Homo sapiens: one gene and its partner. The protein of the gene in region 1 interacts with the protein of each later gene in a biochemical or structural test. Each region holds a gene or a part of one and is shown in the gene's direction. Other genes may lie near its edges.

Evidence for each region. Proteins that work in one complex are often made in the same cells at the same time.
Region 2: the proteins of PLA2G4A (region 1) and SIRT2 form a complex in vitro, tested with the Homo sapiens proteins (one study listed by BioGRID).

Annotation. Positions count from the first base shown.
Region 1 is NC_000001.11:186,940,449-186,943,948, forward strand, and holds part of PLA2G4A (cytosolic phospholipase A2), read left to right. Parts: intron 1-3,500. UniProt on the Homo sapiens protein: Has primarily calcium-dependent phospholipase and lysophospholipase activities, with a major role in membrane lipid remodeling and biosynthesis of lipid mediators of the inflammatory response.
Region 2 is NC_000019.10:38,889,619-38,893,118, reverse strand, and holds part of SIRT2 (NAD-dependent protein deacetylase sirtuin-2), read left to right. Parts: intron 1-2,974; coding exon 2,975-3,016; intron 3,017-3,157; coding exon 3,158-3,264; intron 3,265-3,373; coding exon 3,374-3,430; intron 3,431-3,500. UniProt on the Homo sapiens protein: NAD-dependent protein deacetylase, which deacetylates internal lysines on histone and alpha-tubulin as well as many other proteins such as key transcription factors.

The DNA of each region.
Region 1 (3,500 bases):
TAATTGGGTAATATGATCTACAGTCCTCCCTTGGTACTCATGGGGGATTGGTTCCAGGCCCCCCTGTGGATACCAAATTCAGTGGCTGCTCAAGCCCCACATACAAAATGGCACAGTGTTTGCAGGTAACCTACACACATTCTTATGTATACTTTAAATCATCTCTAGGTTATTTACAATGCCTAATACAGTGTAAATGCTAGGTAAATAGTTGTTATATTGTTAGGGAATAATTACAAGGAACAAAAGTCTGTACATGTTTAGTACAGATCAAACAGTACATGTCAACAACGTTACATTTTCTGGAATTTTTAAAAAATATTTTTGATCTGCAGTTGATAGAATTTGCTGAACTCATGGGTATATAGAGCCAACTGTATGTTTGCCATTCAAAGTGCTGTTGTAATTTTTATAATTCAGCACCTAAAAAGTTCTAGTGTATATTTGTAGTGGTTGATGAACCAATGCCTCATTTTGTTAAAATCTCAGGAGTGAACACTTGTTTCTTCTCAAGCTTTGCTTCTTGGATACTATAAAAGTGCACAACACTACTCGGGAGGCTGGGGCAGGAGAATGGCATGAACTCGGGAGACAGAGGAGCTTCCAGTGAGCCGAGATCATGCCACTGCACTCCAGCCGGGGCCATAGAGCGAGACTCCGTCTCAAAAAAAAAAAAAAAAAAGGGCACAACAGCATACTTTTGGGGGGGCCTCTGTCAGTGTTAGTCTGCAGCACAATAGCATTTCTGACTGTAGCTGGTGGGCTTCATTCTATTTTTAGGAAAATTATCTCAGTGACTTCAGACACCCCATGAGCTTAAAAAACCATCATGAGTGGTGTGTAATTGGCACATATATATCCAGAATCCTTTTGTAATTTTCACTTTTCTCTCAACTGCCTCTCAGACAAAAATTTTGAATAGTTTACAAAAATTAGCACACATGGGATCCATTCATTCAAATGTTTATTAAAATATTGGCTAAAATGTTTGTCATGCTTATGGTTCAGAACGCACTTATCACATTTGCTATTTTATTCCATGTTTCCTACAACCGGGGAGTAGGTATTTTTAGCTCTGTTCAACAGAAGAAAAACGAAAACCTCATAAAGATTAAATAATTTGCACATTGCTGCTTAGAACGTAATTAGCAGTGCTGAAATTGGTTTCAAAAATCCTTTGTTCTTTTTATTTTACCATACTAACTTCTGATGTGTACATAGTGATTACCGTCTATATAGATTGCAGCAGTCTGCCGGGCGCTAAGGATGAATTCCTCTTTCCTCACCACAATATATTGTCCCTACCCTATAAGACCTTATAGTCTGTTTGGAAAATTTACAATAATTATTAAAGAAGTTAAGGCACAAGAGAGTACAGAACTGTTACTATACACTGTCATTTTGACCAAGTTATATAATCTACGTTAGACCCAGTTTTCTCATCTGTTAAGTGAAGATGAGACTTCTCACAATGTTTTGCCAAAAAATGAGACAAAGTATGTAAACAATGGCAGGCCCTAATAATAAGTTTCCAGTACATTTTAACAATTTAGAATGTTCTGTGAAAGCTGTATAAGAAAAGTCAGAGGTCTAGATCTTAAAGATTAATAGGATTTGAATATGAAAGGCACATTTAATTATTGGATTGTGGAAGGGGGCATGTAGCAGGGTCAGGGATAACTCAGGTGTGCTCAATGGCAACAAGGAACCACACATCTTGGGCTATAATGGGGTTCATAGTAGAGAGTTGAGACTTTATTACATAGAAAAGTAAGCGCCATAATGAAATTGCTTCCCCCCAGCCATAGCTATTATCTTGTGGAGCTTTGAAATTTTTGGAATTGTTTGATCTATAACACTTGCATGCTAGTCAGATTTTTGCATGGCCAAATAAATCATCCTTCACCCAGAAAGAATTACATGGTCAAAAGAACACTACATTCTAATTTAAAAGCCTTGTCTTACAATACTTCTAAGCTGAATACCTCAGGCTAGTCATGTAATCTCTGATTCTTATTTTCCTCCTTATTTTAAAAAATATATTAACCCTAAGATTTATCTTCCAGAGCTATTAAGGCAATAATATGAAATATGCATAAGATGAGACTGAAAACTATAAAGAGGCATACAAATATAAAAGTTTGTTTTTATTGTCATGATTGTTCTGGACTTTTCACGGTGGTTATATTTTATTCTGAATTTTTAGTCAATAGCCATTTTCCAAGAAAACTTAACTAAAATAATTAAAGAATAAATAATATTTGGGTGAGTGGATATTCTGGGTTCTTTTAGACTGAAAAAATGCTGTTTTATATTCAGTTAGTAGTCTTTGGACCTGGATGTGTCTTCTTTTGACATCTGCTTCACTGCAGTACTGCTACTGAGATGAGTGGTGCATCATTAACCTTCATTGTTAAGCTTCTGTCATAAGGCGGGTTGAGCTGTGTCTTCCAACAGATTTAGACAAAATCATTAAACATTAATTATATGAATCTTGTACCCAGATAAGACATCTTAAGGTACATGTCTTGAGTGTTCAAGTAGCTTTACTTGAGTTACTGGGAAAAAAAGAATAGAGACACGTCTGTAATTTATTCTTCCAATATATGCTTAGATTGAAAGTGGCTGTGTAGAAGAAAAAGTTGAGATAGTCTCTGAATTATATTTTTAAAAGTCAAATAATCAAATTAGCTTACAGAAGCTTTATTAACAATTTTACTTCAACAATACCGGATAATATTTTCCCTTCCTCTTGGAATAATTTTAAACACACCTTTCATTTAGAAATTTCTTGGAAATTTTCAACAAATAAACATTGGTGTTTAAACTGTTAGAAATTCCTGACTCCTCCACTACATCACATTGCTGAAAGGACTTAAAACGTTCATTTAAAAATTTCCACTGGTGAATAAACTGCATTTATGGATTACAACTTATGGTTATGAACTTAGCATCATGCTAAATTTTTTGACAGACACTTTAGAAGTACAAATATAGTATTTTTCCTCAAGAAAGTTATAATCCTATTGAAAGAGACAAAAATAAAGCATGGAAAAATTCCTATAATATACCTAGACCTGACATAAGTGTGTAGACCTGACATAAGGGTGAGATGTCATAGAGATTTAGTATAGTTGTAAGAAAGGGTGATGAAACTTGGATTTAAGTCGAATGTAGAAGGATCTATCAAGTACGGGTAAAAAGATACCTTTGTGTGGAAACAATATGAGAAAATGCTCAGAAGGGAAGCCAGAGTTATGTTTTGGGCATCACTATTAAAAAAAACAACTAGTCTAGGACTTATGCACACATTGGTGAAGAAAAGGTGTTGTATTTGGAGGCACCAATAGTCCCAAGTTATGGAATGATTTTAATTCCAGACAGAAATATTTTTATTTGATTTTGATGATAATGGAAATAGTTAATGCTTTTGTGCAGGGCAATAAAATTATTTATGTAGTGTTTTTGAAAAAGTCACTTTGGTGACCAATAAAAACAGA
Region 2 (3,500 bases), on another chromosome or scaffold:
CTGCCACCGAGAGAGCACCTTTTCCCAGTAGTTCAAACCAAACAGCAGAGATTGGCTCCCATTGGTCCCGGTTGAGTCAAATGCCTGCCCCCATGCCTCTGATTGGCCAGACCTGGGTCGCTTCTCCATTGCTGAGTGAATTACTGCACTCTGATTGACCAGGCCTGTTTCATAAAATGAGGATAATGATTATAGTATCTAACTCATAAGGTTATTGGCGGGGCTAAATAAATTAATATAGGACCAGGGGCAGTGGCTCATGTATGTAATCTCAGCACTTTGGGAGGCCATCGTGGGAGGATCACTCAACGCCAGGCGTTCAAGACCAGCCTGGGCAACATAGTGAGACCCCCCCGCCATCTCTACAAGAAAAAAAAAAATAGTCAGATATGGGGGCGTTGCCTGTAGTCTCAGTTACTCAGGAGGCTGAGAAGGGAGGATTGTTTGAGCCCAGGAATTGGAGGCTGCAGTGAGCTATGATGGCACCACTGCACTGCAGCCTGGGCAACACAGTGAGACTCTGACTCTAAAAAAAAATAAAGTAATAAAATTTAAAAGATAAATAAAAATGCAAATGCTTAGAGCAGGGCCTGGAACATAGCGAGAGCTGTGGCAGGGTGTGCCGTGGTTATTACTACAGGAGGCTTATTTCAGATGTGGTGGATAGGTGTCCACTTACTGAGTCAGCATGAAATTTATATTTCTTTTTCTTTTTTTTTTTTTGAGATGGAGTCTTGCTCTGTTGCCCAGGCTGGAGTGCAGTGGCACAATCTCAGCTCACTGCAACCTCCACCTCCCGGGTTCCAGCAATTCTCCTGCCTCAGCCTCCCGAGTGGCTGGGATTACAGACGCACACCACCACGACTGGCTAATTTTTTGTATTTTAGTAGAGACAGGGTTTCACCATGTTGCCCAGGCTGGTCTTGAACACCTGAGCTCAGGCAATCCACCCTCCTCGGCCTCCCAAAGTGCTAGGATTAGAGGCATGAACCACCCGTCCCGGCCTGAAATTTATATTTCTTGCCACAAGTTGAGGTCACCAAAGTCTGAGAAACCAGGCCCTTGGCAGTCCTCAACTAGAACAATCGACCCTTTGTGGTTCCTGAGCAGCCTTTTGTTGAGGACATCTTCTCCTGTGTCCCTGTCCTCCAGCTGCCACTGTCTCCCTCCTCAGGCAGCCAGGCCTGCTGCCCTGAGCCTCCCTCTCCTGCGGCAGGCGAGCAGCTGTCTGCAGCCATCTTTTAGCCTGGGCAGGCCCCAAAGACAACACAGGCAGTGGCTACAAAGCATTTGTTCCTTGTGTCCTCCTGCACCTGGATTCTGGGGTAATTGGCTCATGAGGGTGCCCAGGAGGAGATAGTAATGAAAAATAACAATTAGTTGAGGCCGGGAGTGGTGGTTCAGGCCTATAATCCCACCATTTTGGGAGGCTGAAAGCAGGAGGATCGCTTGAGGCCAGTAGGTCAAGACTAGCCTGGGCAATAAGCGAGACCCCCTCTCTGCAAAAATTTAAAGGTGAGGCTCCAACCCTCACCTCACTGCTCTAAAAATTTATTATTATTATTATTTTGAGACAGAGTCTCACTCTGTTACCCAGGCTGGAGTGCAGTGGCGCTATCATGGCTCACTGCAACCTCTGCCTCCCGGGTTCAAGCGATTCTCCTGCTTCAGCCTCCCGAGTAGCTGGGATTACAGGCGCGTGCCACCACGCCCGGCTAATTTTTGTACTTTTAGTAGAGACGGGGTTTCACCATGTTAGCCAGGCTGGTCTTGAACTCCTGACCTCAGGTGATCTGCCCCCCTCGGCCTCCCAAAGTGCTGGGATTACAGGAGTGAGCCACCGGGCCCGGCCCTAAAAATTTCTTTTTAACCACTTAATTGAGGCTTCACTATTTGCCAGGCACTGGGCTCAGCACTTTACAAGTGCCCTATTATTTGATATTCACATTATACCTGTAAGATCATTATGGAAGTGATCTGAACAGAGGAGGAAAAGGAGGCACAAAAAGGTCACGACTCAGTGTAGGGTCAAACAGTTGCCAAGTGGCAGAGCCAGGATTTGACCCCAGGTCCCCTGAATCCAGACCACATGTAGCCACCACTGGATTCAACCAGGCCTGGCCTGATGGCATCTCAGAGCTGAAGCTCAGGGCTGAAGCTGTGGCAGGCTTTGTGCTCTGTTCACCTTTGCTGTCCTCCCTTGGACAGGGCATCCCAGAGGCATCTGATCCACAGCATATCACACTTGTGCCTGTCTATCAGCTGATGGGCAGATGCCAGGGTACTATGGCCTGGTGGCTACTCACCAGCCACCAGCTAGCTATTTCTGCTCAGCCCAGGGTTCTTATCCTAAAGTGGCCTTTTCTCAAGTCCAAGTTGGTGTGATTTCCAACAGTGGATTCTCTTTTTTTTTTTTTTTTCCTTTTTTTGAGATGGAGTCTCGCTCTGTCACCCAGGCTAGAGTGCAATGGCATGATCTCGGCTCACTGCAACCTCCGCCTCCCGGGTTCAAGTGATTCTCCTGCCTCAGCCTCCCAAGTAGCTGAGATTACAGGCACGTGCCACCACGCCTGGCTAATTTTGTATTTTCAGTAGAGATGAGGTTTTGCCATGTTGGCCAGGCTGGGCTCAAACTCTTGACCTCAGATGACCCGCCTGCCTCAGCCTCCCAAAGTTCTGGGATTACAGGCATGAGCCACTGCACCCAGCCCAACACTGGATTCTTTATCCGCTGGCTGGCTCTTCCGCAGTTGATTGTGTGACTTCTTCCCCTATCTGAGCCCCAGTTTTCTCATTTATAAAATGGGGATGTTAACACCATCCCCGTCTAGATGATTGGAAGGCCCGTCATGCATCTGAGATGCTTGCCCCAGGGCCTGGCATGGAGTAAACGATGTCAGGGGCTGTGATGGGTGGTGCTATCGTAGGGACTGAGCAAACGGTGTCATATGGTGCATAAGTTCCTCTCCTCCAGGTCGCAGAGTCATCTGTTTGGTGGGAGCTGGAATCTCCACATGTAAGTAACCCTTCTCCCCCAGCAGCTACCCCCAGGAACTGGGGAGTCCCTCCCAAGGGCTGGGGAGGAGCCCTATCTGAGCCCTGTCCTGGGAGGGTTAGTATGGTATAGACCAACTGCTCCCTGACCCCCCTTTCCTAGCCGCAGGCATCCCCGACTTTCGCTCTCCATCCACCGGCCTCTATGACAACCTAGAGAAGTACCATCTTCCCTACCCAGAGGCCATCTTTGAGATCAGCTATTTCAAGGTTTGTGCTCCCCCAGGAAGGGGCGTCTGTGAGGGGTGGGGATGGGGTCACCTGGCTCCAACCCTCACGCTACCTGGGGCATCTGGCCCTCTGGCTGTCTCTCCTACAGAAACATCCGGAACCCTTCTTCGCCCTCGCCAAGGAACTCTATCCTGGGCAGTTCAAGGTGAGATCTTTGTTTTGCAGGGGGCGAAACAGGAAGGGTTGGGGGAGGGCACGCATGAGAAGCCCCGCCA